Regions from separate parts of the Homo sapiens genome. Here all the other regions are linked to region 1. Evidence: fine-mapped expression QTL. A gene starts in region 1. Each other region holds a variant in brackets. All regions are shown on one strand. Distances are from middle to middle.

What was found. PIP is the estimated chance that this variant, and not a neighbour inherited with it, causes the effect. A credible set is the group of variants that fine-mapping cannot tell apart.
Region 2: its variant is the best candidate, but not a certain one, in a credible set for the expression of LINC02390 in T cells (TOPMed, PIP 0.75).
Region 3: its variant is the best candidate, but not a certain one, in a credible set for the expression of LINC02390 in whole blood (GTEx, PIP 0.64).

The regions. Positions count from the first base shown.
Region 1 is chr12:9,699,764-9,706,902 of GRCh38, reverse strand. LINC02390 (long intergenic non-protein coding RNA 2390) reads right to left here and starts at 3,519. Exons shown (of 2, transcript XR_931347.3): 1 at 2,746-3,519. It also overlaps a transcript of CLECL1 not described here. RefSeq lists an enhancer at 4,682-4,731.
Region 2 is chr12:9,677,490-9,684,628 of GRCh38, reverse strand. CLEC2D (C-type lectin domain family 2 member D) reads right to left here. Exons shown (of 5, transcript NM_013269.6): 2 at 3,596-3,706. Among named protein-coding and RNA genes, the nearest start is that of CLEC2D, 11 kb to the right of the region's middle. The variant T/AT (reference allele first, on the strand shown) is at 3,016.
Region 3 is chr12:10,142,872-10,150,010 of GRCh38, reverse strand. No RefSeq gene overlaps it. Among named protein-coding and RNA genes, the nearest start is that of CLEC7A, 16 kb to the right of the region's middle. The variant T/A (reference allele first, on the strand shown) is at 3,488.

The sequences.
Region 1 (7,139 bases):
AAACTTGAAAGAAGTGACTTCTCCCTAACTCATTCTATGAGGGCAGCACCATCCTGATACCAAAACCTGGCAGAAATACAAACAAAAAGACAACTTCAGGCCAATATCCTTGATGATCATATGCAAAAATTCTCAACAAAATACTGACAAACTGAATCCAGCAGCACATTGAAAAGCTTATTCACCACGATCAAGTCGGCTTCATCTTTGGGATGCAAGGTTGGTTCAACATACACCAACCAATAAATGTAATTCATCAGATAAATAAAACTAAAGACAAAAACCACATGCTTATCTCAGTAAATGCAGAAAAGGCTTTCAATAAAATTCAATATCCCTTCATGTTAAAAACTCTCAATCTACCTGGTGTTTAAGGAACAGGCATCAAAATAATGAGTCATATATGACAAATCTACAGTCAATATCATATTAAATGGGCAAAAGCTCAAAGAATTCCCCTTGAAGACTGACACAAGACAAGGATAACCTCTCTCACTACACCTTTTCAACATAGTATTAGAAGTTTTGGCCTGGGCAATCAGGCAAGGGAAAGAAATAAAGCATATTCAAAGAGGAAGAGAGGAAGTAAAATTGTCTTTGTTTGCAGATGACATGATTCTATATTTGGAAAGTCCCATCATCTCAGCCCAAAAGCTTCTTAAGCTGAGAAGCAACTTCAGCAAAGTCTCAGGTTACAAAATCAATTTGCAAAAATCACTAGCATTCCTACACACCAGCAACAGGCAAGCAGAGAGCCAAATCACAATTGCTACAAAGAGAACAAAATACCTAGGAATACAGCTAACAAGAAAAGTGAAGGGCTTCCTCAAGGAGAAGTACAAACCACTGCTCAAAGAAATCAGAGAAGACACAAACAAATGGAAAAACATTCCATGCTTATGCATAGGAAGAATCAAGATCTTGAAAATGGCCGTACTTCCCAATGCAACTTACAGATTCAATAGAAAAATACCTATTTTAAAATTTATATGGAATAAAATTTATATGGAATAAAAAAGAGCCTGAATAGCCTGAATAATATTAAGCAAAAACAGCAAAGCCAGAGGCATCACACTACCCAATTTCAAACTATACTACAAGGCTACAGTAACCAAAACAGCATGGTACCAGTGCAACAACAGACACATAGACCAATGGAACAGATTAGAGAATTCAGAAATAAGACCACACACCTACAACCATCTGATCTTTGACAAACCTGACAAAAATGAGCAATGGGAAAGGATTCCCCTGTAAATAGTGCTGGGAGAACTGGCTAGCCATATGCAGAAAATTGAAACTGGGACCCTTCCTTATATCATATACAAAAATCAACTCAAGATGGATTAAAGACTTTAGTGTAAAACCCAAAACTATAAAAACCATAGAAGAAAACCTAAGCAATAACATTCAGGATATAGACACAGGCAAATATTTCATGACGAAGATGCCAAAAGCAATTGTAAGAAAAGGAAAGATTGACAAATGGGATCTAATTAAACTAAAGATCTTCTGCACAGCAAGAGAAACTATCAACAGAGTAAACAACCTACAGAATGGGATAAAATTTTTGTAATTCATGCATCTGATAATGATCTAATATCCAGCACTTATAAGGAACTTAAACAAATTTACAAAAAAAAAAGACCTCATTAAAAAGTAAGCAAAGGACATGAAAAGACATTTCTCAAAAGAAGACATACATGTGGCCAACAATTATATGAAAAAAAGCTCAATATCACTGATCATTAGAGAAATGCAGATCAAAACCACAATGAGACACCATCCCACACCAGTCAGATGGCTATTATTAAAAAGTCAAAAAATAATAGATGTTGGCAAGGTTGTGTTGAAAAAGGAATGCTTTTACGTTGTTGGTGGGAGTGTAAATTAGGTCAACCATTGTGGAAGACAGTATGGCAATTTCTCAAAGACCTAGAGACAGCACTACTATTCGACCCAGCAATCCAATTACTGGGCGTATACCCAAAGCAATATAAATTGTTCTATAATAACTACACACGCACACATATGTTCATTGCAGCACTATTCACAATAGCAAAGACACAAAATCAACCTAAATGCCCATCAACGATAGACTGGATAAAGAAAATGTGGTACATATACACCATGGAATACTATGCAGCCATAAAAAGGAACAAGATCATGTCCTTTGCAGAGACATATATGGAACTAGATGCCATTATTCTTACCAAACTATCACAGGAATGGAAAATCAAATACCACATGTTCTCACTTGTAAGTGAGAGCTAAATGATGAGAACACATAGATACCTAGAGGGAAATAACAAAAACGGGGGCCTACCAAACAGCAGAGGGTGAAAGGAGGGAGAGAATTTAAAAAATAATGGATACTAGGCATAATACTTGAGTGATAAAATAATCTGTACAATAAATCTCCATGACATGTGTTTACCTATGTAACAAATCTACAAATCCTGCACATGTATCTCTGAACTTAAAAGTTAAAAAAAGCAAATGAACATAACTTAATCCCTATTCCTCTCTATATGAAAATTGTGAAATAACTGTGACAATGCAGCAACATTTTCACAAGAAATTGTTCAAGGCCTTGGAGCATAGAATATGTAATATTTGTGAAGAAAGTGTCATAATTATATACAGAAAATATTTATTGGAAGTTCTCCTTGTGCAATTAAAATTCTAAAGATGTAAAAATCAAGTATTTCATATTAATAAAATATTAAAGTACTATGAACTTACCATAAATTTGACTCTGATTTGGCAATTACCTAAAGAAAATACAAGATATGTCTTGTAAACTAAATGATTCATCATTGAAAATAAATGTTAACACATTGTTTAACATCACTAGTTTTCTAGCTCCTTCTTTCAACATAAAATAAGCTTTAATGTAACTTATAAATGTATTCAATTAAAGAGTAACATTAAGGTGGAAAATATCATACATATGTTCACCTTGCTACTAAAACACAATACATAGAATATGTTGAGGTCTCCACTGTAGAATACGCAAGTCAATAAAATCAGCAAATAAAATTGACAAAAGGTGACTATTTCTCATTAAAAAAAGAAAATCATTTACACTTTGTCTTAAAGTTTTAAAGCAGGATATTCCAGTTTTAAGACAAAGAAATGACAAATATGTATACATATATATATATATGCGGGCAAGTGTTCTTTTGACATTAAAAGACCTAGGACAGGCTGAGCTCAGTGGCTCACAACTATAATCCAAGCACTTTGAAAGACCAAGGCAGGTAGATTGTTTGACCCCAAAATTTTGAGACCAGCCTTGGCAACACGGTGTAACTCTGTCTCTACAAAAAATTCAAAAATTAGTCAGGTATAATGGCACATGCCTGTGGTCCCAGCTGCTTGGGAGGCTGATGTGAGAGGATCGCCAGAGTTTGGGAAGCTGAGGCTGCAGTGAGCTATGATCATGCCACTGCACTCCAGCCTGAGCAACAGAGTGAGACCTTGTCTCAATAAATAAATAAATAAATAAATAAATAAATAAATAACCTAGCACAAATTATTTTAAGAGTGTGTGTGTATGTGTGTATATATAAATATTTTTTACAAATATCCTCCAGTAGTATGAAGTTGATTAGTACAATGGAGGAACAACATTTAACAGCTGTCTTATGCCTTAAGGGACATAAATCTTGATTGTCCATTCATAGATATTGTATTTAAAGGAACAATAACTTTACTCTATTCAATTTAGTAGCAACTTCTCCAGAATGGATTGCAGTCAGAAACTGTCAGATCTCTTTTGGGTGAGAACTTTGGAACGTTAAAAATTCTGTCTCTTAAAAATGAATGATGGTCAGGTAGTTGGATGCAGTAATTAGGATTTCTGTTTATTATAAGTAGAGATAATTTTTCTGGGTTGTCTACTAGTTTAGTTATAGAACAAGTCTTCTCTTCCTCTGTGTTGATTGGAACCTTGGCAGATACACCTTCACTGATTTTACTGAAATTTACTGTTCCACTAAAGTAAGGGTAAAAAGAGAAGGAACAGAATAGAAAACTTTCAGTCTTCAGATTTAATGCTACCAACTCATTAGCAGACCCAGTTTTCAGAGTTACTAGAGGAGTAGAGATGTCTACAGATTTCTGACTAATGTCATCATTAGTTTTCTTTTTAAATTATGCTGTGGAGGAAAGTTAGTTATTTTACATAAGAGAGAAAGGGTTTGCTCTGAGAGAAGCAGCATATAACTTTCCACCTCTATATTTTAATGTACCTTTTGAGTAGGGTTAGGAGCAGTGTTGGTGATATGGGTGGGAAGCAGGGAAATACTGGGCAGAAGAGGGCTGTCCCAAGCAAGAGCCACACATCCTCAAGCCTGGGATCACAGACCAAAATGAGAACATGCATTTCCTGCTTTCCCACTCACATGTTGCTTTTTGGCCCACCCCACACCCCATCCTCTACCCATAAAAACCACAGGCCCCATCACCAGAGTGGCAGAGCAGCAGAGCAGCGGAATAGCAGAGTGACAGAGAAAGAAAGAAAAGAAGAAGCAGCCGGATGTCAGAGAGAAGCAGTTTGAGCTCAGAGGGACAGCTTGATGGTGGGACCTCGGAGAAGAGTTTGTCTGAACTCCAGGGGAATACCACCTTCCCATTCCATCCACTTTCCAGCTCCCTATCCCGCTGAGAGCCACTTCCATCCCTCAATAAAATCCTCCACATTCACTACCCTTCAATTTGTTTGCATGACCTGATTCTTCCTGGACGCTAAACAAGAACTGAGGTACCAAGAAGGCAGGTCCAAAAGGCTGTCACCCTGACCCTCCACTGAGCTGTTAAATACTTGTCATCTGTGGATAGAAAAGCTAAAAGAGCACACTGTAACACTCACCCTCTGGGGCTTGAGGGGTCATGGGAACTCCCCTAGATGTTGCCATGGGGCAGCACAGAGTTCTACTCCTGCTGGCACACAGAAGCCCTCATCCTGATCCCTACACCCACTCACCTGTGAGTTTCCCCTCCCATGAGGGGTTGAGAGCTGTGGGCTGAGTAAACAAGCCAACCCCTTTGCAACTCCTGCAAAGAGGCCAGGGAAGTACCCCATTTCATCAACACTCTTGGCAGGTGCCAATGTCCTCTCATCTTTTCTGCTTTTGCAAGAAAAAAAAGAAATTGATTTTTTATGTAGATTTGAAAACTTCTAGGTTTTAACTCCAAAATATTGTTTATATCTCCAAATTTAGCACAAATGGAGTTGTACCAGTCTCTCTCATTCTGGAGTAGGTTTTAGAAGATTAGTCAATGCACCTTCAGCCATGCTCAGTGCACTGTGTGCCTGATGCTTCATTCCTAGGTGAGACTTTGGCCTAGGTGAGTAGTCATTCCAGCTCTCAGTACATACTTTCTTTTCATTGTATTTGAAGGTTTAGGATTGAATTTGTAGTCATCTATAAAATGGATGATTCTTTATACAAGAAGTAGTTGCAATTTTATCAATCCCTTCCAAAGGAGTAAAGAGAGCATCATTACACTGTGCCTTTTGCCTTTTTTTTTTTCCTTTTCTATGTTTGGGTTGATTTAATTTTGGGTTCAATATTGATGAAACAATTAGAGTAATTTCCTTGGAACACCTTCATGATCAGTTTTACATACCTGATAATTTGATCATCTGCCAACTTCCATGACAACATCATTACTTTTGGAAACATCTCTTACATTGATCTCTGTTCTCCTAACCCCATTGTTCATATTATTTCCTGTGTTAATTGGATACTTATTTCATTTCATAATTCTCTTTATTTGAACCCAACAACTTCGAGATTCTTACACAATTGACTACCATCTCTTCGTTGTTTATATGATGTACCATAACATGTGGTTCTCCATCTGTCTTTATAGTTTCTTGTTTTACTCCTTGGAGTTTTGTGAGAAATCTCTAGCACCACTGTCATGGACTTAGGATCTTTTTTTGGAGGGGGCCATATTTATCCTATCTCTTGGCATTGCACTCAGTTCATTTTTATCTATATCTCTTCAATTCTGGATTAAGTGTCTATTCCAAATTGTAGTGATGCTATAGCTTCATTAGACATTTTTGGGCAATCAGAGATAGAGGTTTCACTTGTCAGTATGAGGCAGAGCACTGTTCATAATTTCAGCAACACTTTGGGAATTCACTACGTAAGAAGGTCCTACCCCTTGGATGTAGGCAAGTTCATGTTGCACGCTTTGGGAATGTAGGTTCAAAGGCAATAGATCTTTTGTCTTCTTAGGTGAATCTGATGGCAAGAGTTTGAAATATGCAGTTTGGGCATTATACCGAACCTCATAAAAGTCAGATAAGGCTTTCTTGTTAGATGTGTTGCAGGAGCACTTGCAGTTTGCTCCTGCTTTTTGTCATTTGGAAAAAACAACCTAATTTTAAAACTGTCAAGTGAAGTGTGATGGCTAATTTTATATGTCAACTTGATTGAGATAAGGTATACTCAGCAGGGAAAGCATTATCTCTGGATGTGTCTATGAGGGCCAGTGTGACAGAGCTCATATTTTATAAAAATATGTTTTTTCTGTGATCTGATATTTCATGCAAATGAATCAACATTATTTTAACAAAGCTGTATTTTAGTTCTATTCTCTTTTGTTTGCAGAAAACTGATAAGAGAAGTACAATCATATTGGGCTTTAGATCTTAGCCTCCTGCCAAGGAAATTATGGAATCTTTGTGAATTGTGGTTGGTTACATAGTTTCTAAGCCAGAGATTGTTTCCTCTTCTTACCTATGTAGGAAGTACAAGCTTCCTAGTATTCTCTTCTGCAAGCTAGAGAACCAGGAAAGCCAGTGTTGTAATCTAGTCTGAGTCGAAAGCCTTAGAACCAGGAAATGTCTTCCTGACCAATACATGAAGTATTATTAAAATATGCCTAAATAAAACAAAGCATAATTCTCAGTGTAAGGCCAAAGGTCTGGGAAACTGGGGAACTCCAATGTCTGAGAGTAGAAAGAAATGGATGCCCTAGCTTTAGAAGAGAATAAATTTACCCTACCTGACTTTTTGCTCTGTTTGGGTAAGACCTGCACGGATTGGATGATGCCTGCCAACATTGGTGAAGGTAGATCATCTTTACACAGCTTAGTGATTCCAACATCAATCTCT
Region 2 (7,139 bases), 22 kb after region 1:
CAGATGCAGAAAAGGCCTTTGATAAAATTGAACACCCCTTCATGATAAAAACACACAATAGACTAGGTATTGATGGAACATACATTAAAATAATAAAAGCTATTTATGACAAACTCATAGCGAATATCATACTGAGTGGCCAAAAGCTGGAAGCATTCCCTTTGTAAACTGGCACAAGGCAAGGATGCCCTCTCTCACCACTCCTATTCAATATAGTATTGGAAGTTCTAGTCAGGGCAATCAGGTAAAAGAAAGAAAGAAAGAAAGTGTATTCAACAGGAAGAGAGGAAGTCAAATTATCTCTGTTTGCAGATGACAGAATTGTATATTTAGAAAACCCCATTGTCTCATCCCCTTAAAACTTATTAAGCTGATAAGCAACTTCAGCAAATTCTCAGGATACGAAATCAATGTGCAAAAATCACAAGCATTCCTATACACCAATAACAGACAAACAGAGAGCCAAATCATGAGTGAACTCCCATTCACAATTGCTACTAAGAGAATAAAATACCTAAGAATACAACTTACAAGAGATGTGAAGGACCTCTTCAAGGAGAACTACAAATCACTGCTCAAGGAAATAAGAGATGACACAAACAAATGGAAAATCATTCCATGCTCATAGATAGGAAGAATCAATATTATGAAAATAGTCATATAGCTCAAAGTAATTTATAGATTGAATGCTATTCCCATCAAGCTACCATTGACTTTCTTCACAGAATTAAAAAAAAAAAAACTTTAAATTTCATATGGAACCAAAAAAGAGCCTGTATAGCCAAGACAATCCTAAGCAAAAAGAACTAAGCTGGAGGCATCATGCTACCTGACTTCAAATTAAACTATAAGGCTACAGTAACCAAAACAGCATGGTGTTGGTACCAAAACAGATATATTGACCAATGGACAGAACAGAGGCCTCAGAAATAACACCCAACATCTACAACCATCTGATCTTTGACAAACCTGACAAAAACAAGCAATGGGGGAAAGGATTCCCTATTTAATAAATGGTGTTGAGAAAACTGGCTAGCCATATGCAGAAAACTGAAGCTGGACCCCTTCCTTACACCTTACACAAAAATTAGCTCAAGATGGATTAAAGACTTAAACATAAGACCTAAAACCATAAAAACCTGAGAACAAAACCTAGGCAATACCATTCAGGACACAGGCATGGGCAAAGGTTTTATGATTAAAACACCAAAAGCAATTGCAACAAAAGCAAAAATTGACAAGCGGGATCTAATTTAACTAAAGAGCTTCTGCACAAAAAAAAAAAAAAAAAAACAAACACAAAAAACAAACTATCATCAGAGTGAACAGGCAACCTACAGAATGGGAGACAAATTTTGCAATCTATCCGTTTGACAAACAGCTAATATCTAGAATCTACAAGGAACTTAAAAAAATTTACAAGAATAAAACAAAAAACCCTATCAAAAAATGGGCAAAAGATATGAACAGACACTTCACAAAAGAAGACATTTATGTGGCCAACAAATATATGATAAAAAGCTCATCATAACTGATCATTAGAGAAATTCAAATCAAAACAACAATGAGATACCATCTCATGCCAGTTACAATGACAATCATTAAAAAGTCAGGAAACAACAGACGCTGAAGAGGATGTAGAGAAATAGGAACACTTTTACACTGTTGGTGGGAGTGTAAATTAGTTCAACCATTTTGGAAAATACAGTGTGGCAATTCCTCAAGGATCTATAACCAGAAATACTGGGTCTATACCCAAAGGATTATAAATCATTCTACTATAAAGACACATGCACTCGTATGTTTATTGTGGCACTATTCACAATAGCAAAGACTTGGAACCAACCCAAATGCTCATCAATGATAGACTGGATAAAGAAAATGTGGCACATATACACCATGGAATACTATACAGCCATAAAGAAGAATGAGTTCATATTCTTTGCAGGGAGACAAATGAAACTGGAAACCATCATTCTCATCAAACTAACACAGGAACAGAAAACCAAATACTGCAGGTTCTCACTCATATGTGGGAGCTGAACAATGAGAACACATGGATGCAGGGAGCGGAACATCACACACTGAGGCGTGTTGAGGGTTGGGGGGCAACGGGAGGGATAGCATTAGGAGAAATACCTAATATAGATGATGGGTTGATAGGTGCATCAAACCACCATGGCACGTGTATACCTATGTAACGAACCTGCGGGTTCTGCACATTTATCCCAGAACTTAAAGTATAATTTAAAAAAAAAGTTAGGGACCAGAGCTATAACTACAAAGCTCTATTAGGAATTTTTATAACTAAAGCCAATCTAAATAACTCGATTTAAATGGGGAAATACCACACTTGAATAGTTAACTAACAATCTAAATGTTAAATAAAACATAAAAATGATATAAAGTAATACATAATAACACATTTAAAAAAAGAAAGAAAGAAAATGACCAGATTAGAAGATGGCTCCAGCTATTGGCTCCACACAAGAAATCATTTCCAAAGTGCTAGCTGAAAGGAAGAGAAACACATAATGGATAATAAAGGAAAACAGTCATAAGTGTCAATTTCATATGCTTACTGTAAAAAAAAGAGCTATAAATTTAAATTATATTTCAGAATACATTCCCTTGATTAATACTGAGGTACTTACAGAGTACAGAAATTGTCTCTTTCCAATTTTTTCTTTCTTAAATAGTTACAATTAGTTGACTTAAATCTCTGAAATAAAAAAATTATTTTTGCTTCATAAATGTATAAAGTATATTATCTGTGGTTTCAAAATGCCAAAAGATAATAAGCAAAAGATTTGCAAATGAATAGAAATTATTTAGAGTGTTATATGGAGTGCTCCAAGTATTGCTGACTCTTAAGTTACGTAAGCAGTATTTGAAGGGTCTCTCTGAAATTACTTCAGAATGTAGTAACAGGGGGTAGATTTTAGGTTGATATCCAGATTGGCATGAGGTTTGGGGGAAGTGCTTTTGTAGTTTTCTATGTCTTCGCTTGGTCTA[T/AT]ATTAGATGCACTGCAAGCATGTTTTGAAGTACAAGATAATTTTTATAGCTAATTGCTTTTAGGGTACAATCACTAAACGGAGTTTGTTTTCTAGGAAGATGGGCTACATATGCTAAAAAAAACAAGGGCCAGAACATGCTCAAATAGCTAGGAAGAAAGAACAGGCTGCCTGTGATGTTATACAGCCACTTAGTAGTTTTGTGTACTTTAAACCATCTGTTTTGCTATTTTTCATGAAACAAGGTTGTTGTGGAGGTAAAATTAACCATGTTCCTAGATCGGACAAGAGACTATTTTTCAGTTTACTATTTTTTTTAATTTTTGCATCAATATTCTTAAGGAATAGTGGTCTGTCTTCTACCTTCTGAAGACTCTGATCATCTCACTAAACTTGGAATAATGTGAACCCTATTTACATAATTAAAATTTTTGGTGCCACTTAAAAAGTTATTGGAGTGTAACTCAGTTAGTGAGACAATATATTAAAAGCTGTAAAGAATAACAAAATTATTCAGATTCTTCCTCTTCTTTTTACAAGTATAATTCTCTCTAGATGAATAAAGATTACAGTTCACTTACCGCTTAAAGCAGCAACCATTCCACACACTATGATTGTCAGAAACATGATTAAGAAAAATAAGCGCCAAATTAAGGTAGCTTTAATAGAATGCTCTTTTGAATGCAGACAACCTGGAAAAAATTATTGAAAAACATTTTAACAATTAAATACAGACATAATACTGCCAGAAACATTAAGCATCAAAATGTTATTTTTATTTAATTCCTTCGCTTTTCACTAGAGGATGCAAATGACCTGTCATCTTATGAACTTACTATTCTATCTCCAGAATTTAATCATTTTCCAAAGTTAAAAGAATTGATTTTAACTTTCCAGCTACCATATTCAAGTTACCCTTTCAATTGGAGAGATTCATGTCAACTAAACCACAGGAATGAAATCAACAAAATCCAAGTAACTGGAAATTCAACATAGCAAATTATTCTGATTCCTGTCTAAAAATGTAAAGAAATATTTTTAAATGATATTAAGAGGAAATCTATCGATTAAAATAGACTTAAAAGGCATTGTTTTGGAGGAAAAAAGGCAAAACTGGAGTGATAAAGTGATTATTGTAGAGGTCAAATTAGTGTTATTCTTGGAAGGATAGGAGAGTGAATAGTTAAGAATACATGGAGGGCCTCTGAGCCACATAACAAGGATCTTTCTTAGACAATGTTAGCAGTTGTATTAGTCCATCCTCACTGCTATGAAGAACTGCCCAAGACTGGATAATTTAAAAAGGAAAGAAGTTTAACTGACTCACAATTCTACATGGCTGGGGAGGCCTCAGGAAACTTACAATAATGGTGGAAGAGGAAGCAAACGTGTTCTTCTTCACATGGCAGCAGGAGACAGAAGTGCCTAACAAAGGGGTAAAAGCCCCTTATAAAACCATCAGATATCATGAAAACTCACTCGCTATCACAAGAACAGCACGAGGGTAACCAACTCCATGATTCAGTTATCTCCCACTGGGTCCCTCCCATGACAAGTGGGGATTATGAGAACTACAATTCAAGATGAGATTTGGGTAAAGACACAGCTAGGCCATATCAGGAGTCAACAAAGGTGTTTATCTTATAATAATTAATCAAGCTACATATTTGTATTGTATAATTTCCTGTAGTTGTGTTATATTTCAAAATGTCTTAGGTTATCTAAAACCTCTTATGAAGTTCATTATTGGAACCCTGTTCTGACACAATCTCTTGCATACAATTCACACCTCTAGTTAATTTATCTAGGTTTGTCCTTAGCTAAATAGGCATATTTTTCTCCAACATTCCCCCCAACACTAGAGAGATCAGCAAGCTTTACATTGATGTTTCCCAAGATATTTGTCTTAATCAATAGATTTTAGTTTTTATCAGTTTAAGTTGACAGAAATACTGAATTAAAAATATAGAGTTCACATATGCCCCTGTACCCCCTTTATCAAAGATTTAAGAAATCATAAGAGAATCCAGAGGAAAATAAATTCTACATGTAGAGAAACAAAGATAAAAATGACATTTACATTCTTCTCAAAAACCATGCAAGCAAGAAGACAGTGGAAACAAATATTTAAAGTATTAAGAGAAAAAACCTTATCAACTTAGAATTCTTTAGCCAAAAAAATTCTTCAAAGTGAATGAGAAACAACCACTATTTTGGAGAAACATTGAGATAACTTGTTGCCAGTAGACTTGTCTTATATCAAAAAACAAAAAAGTTAAATGCAATTATTTTAAAAGGAAAGAGAATTATACAGGTTAGAAACCTAAATTATATGAAAAAGGAACAATATAAAAAATAAGTGAAGGTAAAATAAAACTATTTTTCTTATTCTTAATTGATCTAACAAATGGCAGTTTGTTCAAAATAACAATAGTAGCAATATATTTAATTATGTGTGCTTATGTATACATCTTTTATATATATTTATATGCTTATGTATTCTTACATGTAAATAAAATAAATAACAGAAATGACACATGGGATAAAAGCAGAGAATTAGATTTTTTTATTATAAGGTACTCACAGTACCTGTGAAATGGTATAGTATTATTTGAAAGCAAACTTATGTTAGTTGTGAGTGTATATTGCAAACACTAGGGTAACCACTAAAATCACATTTTTAAAGTATAATTGATATACTAAGAATGAGAAAATATGGAACTTTATAAATGCTAAGTTAAAAACTAAAAATGCAGGAAAAAAATGGAAGACATGGCTGGGTGTTGTAGCTTACACTTATAATCCCAACCCTTTGAGACACTGAGGCAGGAGGATCATTTGAGGCCAGAAGTTCAAGACCAGCCTGGGCAACGTAGCAAAGACTCTGTCGCTACAAAAATTAAATAAAAATTAGCCAGGCTTTGTGGCACATGCCCGTAATACCAGGTACTCAGGGCTCAGGTAGGAGAATCACTTGAGCCTAGGATTTCAAGGGTACAGGGAGCTATGATTATACCACCACACTCTAGCCTAATGAACAGAATGAGACTCAGTCTCTGAAAAGAAGAGAATGAAAAACAAAAATAGAAACAAAGAACAAAGGCAACAAATAGAAAACAGAAAGAAATATGGTAGATATTTAATCCACCTATATTAATAATCATTTTAATATCAATGATCTAAATGCACCAATTAAAAATCAGAGATTAAACTATATGATGTCTGCAGGAAATGCACTTTAAATATAAAGACACACAAATTAAAAGTAAATGGATCATGAATATATATATGTATTATATCATACTGGCACAAACAAAAGAAAGCAGGAGAAGCTATACAAATTTCAAACAGAACAAACCTCAAAGCAAGGAAATTTATCAGGAATGAAGAAAAGCATTGCATAATGGTATAAGAATTAGCTTTCCAAGAAACTATGTTATGTTTCCGCATAACAAACCTAAATGTGCACGCACCTAACAAGAGAGTATTTAACTACGTGAGGCAAAAATTAACAGAACTGCAAGGAGAAATCGATGAATTCATTATCATAGTTGGAGATTTCAACAACACTCTATTGGAAATGCACAGATCCAGCAGGGTATATTGGCTCATGACTGTAATCTCAGCACTTTGGGAGGCCCAAAAGGCTGGATTATTTGATCTCAGGAGTTCAAGACCAACCTGAGCAATGTGGTAAAATCTGTCTCTACAAAAAGACAAAAATGAGCCAAGTGTGGTGGTATTTGCCGGTATTCCCAGCTACTCAGGAGACTGAGGTGGGAGGATTGCTTGAACTCGGGAAGCAGTGGTTGAAATGAGATGAGATTGCATTACTGCACTCCAGTCTGGGTGACAGAGCGAGACTCTGTCTCAAAAACAACAAAATAAAAAAAAAAAAAAAAAAAAAGAAAGAAAGAAATGCCCAGATCCAGCAGGCAGAAAATCAGTAGAACTTAGGTGAACTCAGCAACATCATCAATTAACCGAATATAATTGACATCTATAGACTACTTTGTCAAACAACAGCAGAATACACACTCTCAAGATTACATGGAATAATCACCATAATAGACCACCTTCTGGGCCAAAACATATCCTAACAAATTTAACAAAATAGAAATCATA
Region 3 (7,139 bases), 440 kb before region 1:
CAGACAACATTATATTGAATGGGCAAAAGCTGGAAAAATTTCCCTTGAGAACTGGAACAAGATAAGGATGTCCACTTTCACCACTCCTATTCAACATAGTACCAAAAATCCTAGCCAGAGCAATCAGGCAAGAGAAAGACTTAAAAGGTATCCAAATAGGAAAAGAAGTCAGACTATCTCCCTTCACTGACAACATGATTCTATACCTAGAAAACTCTAAAGACTTCGCCAGTATGCTCCTAAAACTGATAAATGATGTTAACAAAATTTCAGGATACAAAATCAATGTACACAACTTAGTAGCATTTCTAAACACCAGTAACATTCTAGCTGACAGCCAAGTTAAGAGCATAATCCCACTTATAATAACCACTAATAAAATGATTATTGGGAGTACCACTAAACAAGGAGGTGAAAGATCTCTGCAAGGAGAACTGCAAAACACTGCTGAAAGAAATCAGAGCCAATACAAATAAATGGAAAAACATGTCATGCCCATGGATTGGAAGAATCAATATTGTTAAAATGGCATACTGCCCAAAGCAATGTACAGATTCAATGCTATTACCATCAAATTACAAGTATCATTTTTCACAGAATTAGAAAAAACAATCCTGAGATTCATACAGAACCAAAACAGAGCCTGAATAGTCAAAACAATCCAAAGCAAAAAGAGCAAAACTGGAGGCATCATGTTACCCAACTTCAAACTATACTATAAGGCTACAATAACCCAAAGAGCATGATAGTAGTACAAAAACAGACACATAGACTGAGGGAACAGAATAGAGAACCCAGAAATAAAGTTGCACACCTACAATTATCTGGTCTTTGACAAAGTTGACAAAAACGACCAATAGGAAAGGACTCCCTGTTCAGTAAAAGTGCTGGAATATACTGGCTAGCCATATGCAGAAGATTGAAACTGGTGAAACCCTACCTTTCATCACACATAAAAATTGATTCAAAATGGATTAAAGACTTAAGACCTCAAACTATAAAATTCTAGAAATAAATCGAGGAAATACCCTACTCAACATCAGCTAAGGCAGATAATTTATGGCTAAATCTTTAAAAGCAATTGCAACAAAAACAGTAATCAACAATAGGACCTAATTAAACTAAAGAGGTTTGCATAGCAAAAGAAACTATCAACAGAGAAATTAGACAATCTACAGAATACGAGAAAATGTTAGTAAAGTATGCATCTGACAAAGGTGTAATAATCCAGAATCTATAAGAAATTTAGGCCAGGTGTGGTGGCTCACACCTGTAATCCCAGCAATTTGGGAGGCCAAGGTGGGTGGATCACCTGAGGTCAGAAGTTCGAGACCAACCTGGCCAACATGGTGAAACCCCATCTCTACTAAAAATACAAAAGTTAGCCAGGTGTGGTAGCACGCACCTGTAGTCCCAGCTACTCAGGAGGCTGAGGCAGGAGAATCACTTGAACCTGGGAGGTAGAGACTGCAGTGAGCTGAGATTGCACCATTGCACTCCAGCCTGGGCAACAAAAGCGAAACCCCATCTCAAAAAAAAAAAAAAAAAAAAAAAGAAGCAGCAGCAGCAGCTTAAACAAATCAGCAAGCAATAAACAAATAACCCCATTAAAAAGAGGCAAAGGACATGAACAGACACTTCACAGAAGAGGACATACAAGCGGCCTACAAACATATGAAAAAATGATCATCATCACTAATCATTAGAGAAATGCAAATTAAAACCACAATGAGACACCATCTCTCACCAGTCAGAATGGCTATTATTAGTCATAAAACAACAGATGGTGGCAAGGCTGCAGAGAAAAGAGAATGCTTATACCCTGTTGGTGGGAATGTAAATTAGTTCAGCCACTATAAAAAGCAGTTTGGAGATTTCTGAAAGAACTTAAAACAGAACTATGATTCAATCTGAAAATCTCATTTCTGGATATATATCTGAAGGAAAATAAATCACTCTACCAAAAAGCACGTGCACTCGTATGCTCATCACAGCACTATTCACAATAGCAAAGACATGGAATCAACCTAGGTGTCCATTGACAGTGGATTGTATAAGGAAAATGTGGTACATATACACCATGGAATACTACACAGCCATAAAAAAGAATGAAATCATGTTGTTTGCAACAACATGGAGGCAGCTGGTGGCCATTATCCTAAGTGAATTAACATAGGAACAGTGAACCAAATACTGCATGTACTCACTTACAAGTGGGAGCTAAGCATTGAGTACGCATGGACGTAATAATGAGAACAATAGATACTGGGAACTACTAGAAGGGGGAGGGAGGGAGGAAGGGAAATGTCAGCTGAAAAACTACCTATTGGGTACTATGCTCTCTTCCTAGGTGACAGAATGATCTGCACTACAAACCTCAGCATCATGAAATTTACCCATGTAACAAACCTGCATATGTACCCACTGAATCTAGAATAAAAGTTGAAATTGCTGTCTAAAAAAGCTCTTTGTTTCATTGACTTTGTCTATATATTTTTGTTTCCTATTTCATTAATTTCTACTTTGATTGCTATTGTTTCTTTTTTCTACTTAGTTGGGTTTTAATTTCTTCTTTTTCTTGTTTCTTAATATGGAAGCTGAGTTCATTAATTTGAGGCATTTCTTCTTTTTTATATAGTCATGCAGTGCTTTAAACTTTCCTTTAAATATTGCTTTAGTGGTATACAACAGATTCTGGTATGGTAATTTTTCACATTTATTCAGTTCAAAACACTTTCTAATTTCCCTTCAAATTTCCTCTTTGATTCATTGATTATTTAGAATGTGTTAATTTCCAAATACTTGGGAATTTTCCAGAAATCATTATACTATTAGTTTCCATGTGAGAAGAAACATTTTTAATGACTTAAACCCTTAAATTTATTGAGACATTTTATGGCCAAAAATATGATCTATCTTGGCAAATTTTCCATGTACACTTAAAAAGAATATGTAATCTGTTGTCGTTGGATGGAATGTTGTTAAAATGTACATCAAATAAATGCGGACAATAATTTGATTCAAGTCTTTATTTATTTATTTAGTTTTGAGAAGGTGTCTCGGTCTCTGTCGGCCAGGCTGGAGTGCAGTGGCGCGGGTGCAACCTCCGCCTCCCGGGTTCAAGCGATTCTCCTCTCTCAGCCTCCTGCGAAGCTGGGATTACAGTCATGTGCCACCATGCCCGGCTATATATATATATAGTTTTTTGAGACAGAGTTTCGCTTTTGTCCCCCAGGCTGGAGTGCAGTGGCGCGATCTTGGCTCACTGCAACCTCCGCCTCCTGGGTTCAAGAGATTCTCCTGCCTCAGCCTCCCGAGTAGCTGGGATTACAGGCATACACCACCATGCCCCTCTAATTTTTGTATTCTTAGTTTCGTCAAGTTGGCCAGACTGGTCTTGAACTCCAGACCTCAGGTGATCCACCTGACTCGCCTCGCAAAGTGCTGGGATTACAGGCATGAGTCACCATCCCCAGTCTGGTTGAAG[T/A]CTGTTATATGCTTGCTGATATTTTTTGTCTATTATCATATCAATTATTGAAAAAGGAGTATCTAACCTTTGATGATAATTATGATTTTGTCTACTTCTCCTGTAGTTCTATCAGGTTTGCTTTGTATATTTTAAAGCTCTGATAATCAAGGCATAAATATTATGGATTTTCATTCTCTCTTGATGAACTGACCTCTAACCAAGTAAACTTTTTTATTCCTGTTAGTAATGTTTGTTCTGAAATCTATTAGTCTGAAATTAGTACAGCCACTCCTGCTTTTCTTTGATTAATATTGGCATGATATATCTTTTTTTATCCTTTTACTTTTAACCTATTTTTTTGTCTTTAAACCGAGTATATTCCTTTTAGCTGACATAACATTTGGGCTCGCTATTTTACATCATTTAACAATTTCTTTTGGGTGTTTAAAACATTTACATTTAATGAAATTCTGATTAATTATACTTAAGTCTGTCATCTTGATATTTGTTTTCAATTTGTCTCCTTTGATCTATTTCCTATTTCTTTTTCCTCCTTTTTTTTTTTTTTTTTTAGACGGAGTCTCGCTCTGTCGCCCAGGCTGGAGTGCAGTGGCCGATCTCTGCTCACTGCAAGCTCCGCCTCCCAGGTTGATGCCATTCTCCTGCCTCAGCCTCCCAAGTAGCTGGGACTACAGGCACCTGCCACCATGCCTGGCTAATTTTTTGTATTTTTTAGTAGAGACAGGGTTTCACCATGTTAGCCAGGATGGTCTCGATCTCTTGACCTTGTGATCTGCCTGCCTTGGCCTCCCAAAGTGCTGGGATTACAGGTGTGAGCCACCGTGCCCGGCCTCCTGAAGAATTTTTTAAATGTTTTCTCTACTGAAATTCTGTTTGTGATTAATTCTGATTTAAGATGTCTGAAAACATTATTATTTCATCTGTACTTTTAAATGATATTTTCACTGGGTGTAGAATGCTAGGCTGACAGATTTTTTTGTATACTTCAAAAATGTTACTCCACAGTCTTCTTACTTGTATTATTTCTTATGACAAATATTCTATCATTCTTTGTTTCTCTGTACATAATTATCTATGCTTTTGTTAGATATTTTATTTTCGTTTTGTCACAGGGTTTATGCATTTTTTATTATGATGTGCCTTGGTGAAGTTTTTTTGTTTGTTTCTTGTATTCAGAGTTCTTTAGCTTTTGGATCTATTGTTTTACATTTTTCATTAGCTTTGAAAATGTTAAGCATTATTTTTTCAAATATGTTTTCTGCTCCAACCTCTACCCCACTCCCACACACTGTTAAGGGATTTAATACACGCGTATTAGGCGCTAGAAATTATCTCCCAGCAACCTAATGCTCTGCTCTGCCCTTTCCCTCCCGTCCCCTCCCCTCTCTTACTTTCCGCTTCTCTTCCCCCTGCCTTCTTTCCTTTCTATTACTTTCTGTTCTTTCTCCTTCTCTTTTCCTTCTTTTTTTTTTTTTTGAGACAGAGTCTCACTCTGTCGCCCAGGCTGGAGTGCAGTGGCACGATCTCGGCTCACTGCAAGCTCCACCTCCCGGGTTCATGCCATTCTCCTGCCTCAGCCTCCCAAGTACTACAGGTGCCCGCCACCACGCCCGGCTAATTTTTTGTATTTATTAGTAGAGATGGGATTTCACCTAGATAGCCAGGATGGTCTCGATCTCCTGACTTCGTGATCCACCCGCCTCGGCCTCCCAAAGTGCTGGGATTACAGGCGTGGGCCACCGCGCCTGGCCTCTTTTCCTTCTTTCTTGCTTGCCTTCCTTCTTTTATTTTACTTTTCTTTCTTCTTCCCTTTCTTTCTTTTCCTTTTAAAATTATATTCTCTCGGGGCTTCATTTTTAATAGTGACTCTTGTTATATCTCCAGGTTCACTAGTCTTTCCTTCTGGGTGTCCAATCTGCCATTAATACCTTACAGTGTATTTTTAATTTTATCTTTTGTCATTTACATTTCTAAAAGTGTACTTTGGTGTTTTTTTTTTGTCTTCTACATCTCTATGTAACTTTTAAAATATATAAATGTGTTTTGAACACATTAATTATCTTAATGTCTACATCTTCTAATTCTAACCTCTGAGTTGGTTTTGATTATTATTCTCCCCATTATGGGTCATATTTTTGTAACTCTTTGCATGCCTGCTGATCTTTGATTGAAAGCCAGACATTGTTCATTTTACCTTGGTCGATACTAAATAGGTTTGTGCTCCTATGAGTTTTATTATGAGATATGTTTAAGTTTCATAGAAACAGTGTGACGTTTCTGTTATTGTTTTTATGATAGGCAATATTAAAGAATTTCTCATTCTGGGGCTTAATTATTTCCCACTATGAAGGCAAGAGTTTCTGAATATCCTACTGAAAGCCTCACTGAACTATGATCTTTTCCAGCCTTGATGTTGGGAAAGGGCACTGTTCCTTGCTGTGTGTGAGCACTGGGAAGTGTTTTCTCTAATCAGTTTGGATGTTTCTTTCCTTGGACCCTCTGGTAGCTCCTCACACTTGTGCTTTGATCTGAACTCTGCTGAGTCCTCAAGCAAGATCCTCTGTAGATCTCTGAGTTCTTTCTTGATGCAGCCTACTCTTCTCTTGTACTCTCCTCTGAACTCTGTTTGCCTTTTTCTTCTCTGGCTTTCAGCTTTATATATCTTTAATCCATGGAGTTTACTAGCCTCATCCTCAGTTCCCCTTCCCTGTGTGTGGCCTGGAAACATTCTAAACTTGGTAAGCTAGGGCGATTATAGAGCTCACCTTGCTTGTTTTCCATCTCTCAGGAATCACTGTCCTTGATTACTTGATAGCCAGTGTTTTAAAAACTATTGCTTTATATATGTATATCCTTTTGTTTGTTTTAATTTGGAAGGTGAATTGAGTCCTTGTTACTCTATTGTGGCTATAAGAAAAAGTTCAAGATAACTATTTTGTAATTAGGTATTTAAGCTTCTCTTTCTGTTAGGGCTACTGATATCATTGAACAAAGATAAGTTGAACTGAGAGTATCCCTGGGGAAAAAAATTGTACTTCAATACTGAAAGATGGATTCTTGACTTTGTGTCTGGTAGTTTCTATTTCAAAGTTGATGACAGAGCTATCTTCTTTAGCCAAGCTGATAGTGCCTGTGAGTCATTGCCCATTCGCCCTTACTATTTCTGTCTTCAATCCTTATAGACACTGGTGCATTATTTTCTTAAACCTTAGATTCAGAGGCAATTGCCATGATCTGATCTATCCTGGGGATAACTCTTTCTATTAGTTCATATACTGCTTTTTGATCCCAACTATATCATTTAAATCAGGGCTACAACTTCAGCTCTTGGCCTGAGGGCTGTTATGTGCATGCTGTGATCTAAGACTAATTTTTACATTTTAAAAGGGTTATTAAAAATATGTGCAGCAAAGACTGAAAGTGGACTGCAAAATCTAAAATGGTTACCCTCTCTCCCTTTTCAGAAGATATTTACTGACTCCTGATGTAAATAAACTATTGTTCATGCATGCATTTCTGTAATGAGAAATAAATATGATAGTTAAGCACAAGGGCTCTGAAGTTGAACTGAGTTCAAATCCCAGTTAATTACTGAACATTTCTGTTGTCTAAGGCAAGCTATGTACCCTCTTAATGCCTTGAAGTTCTC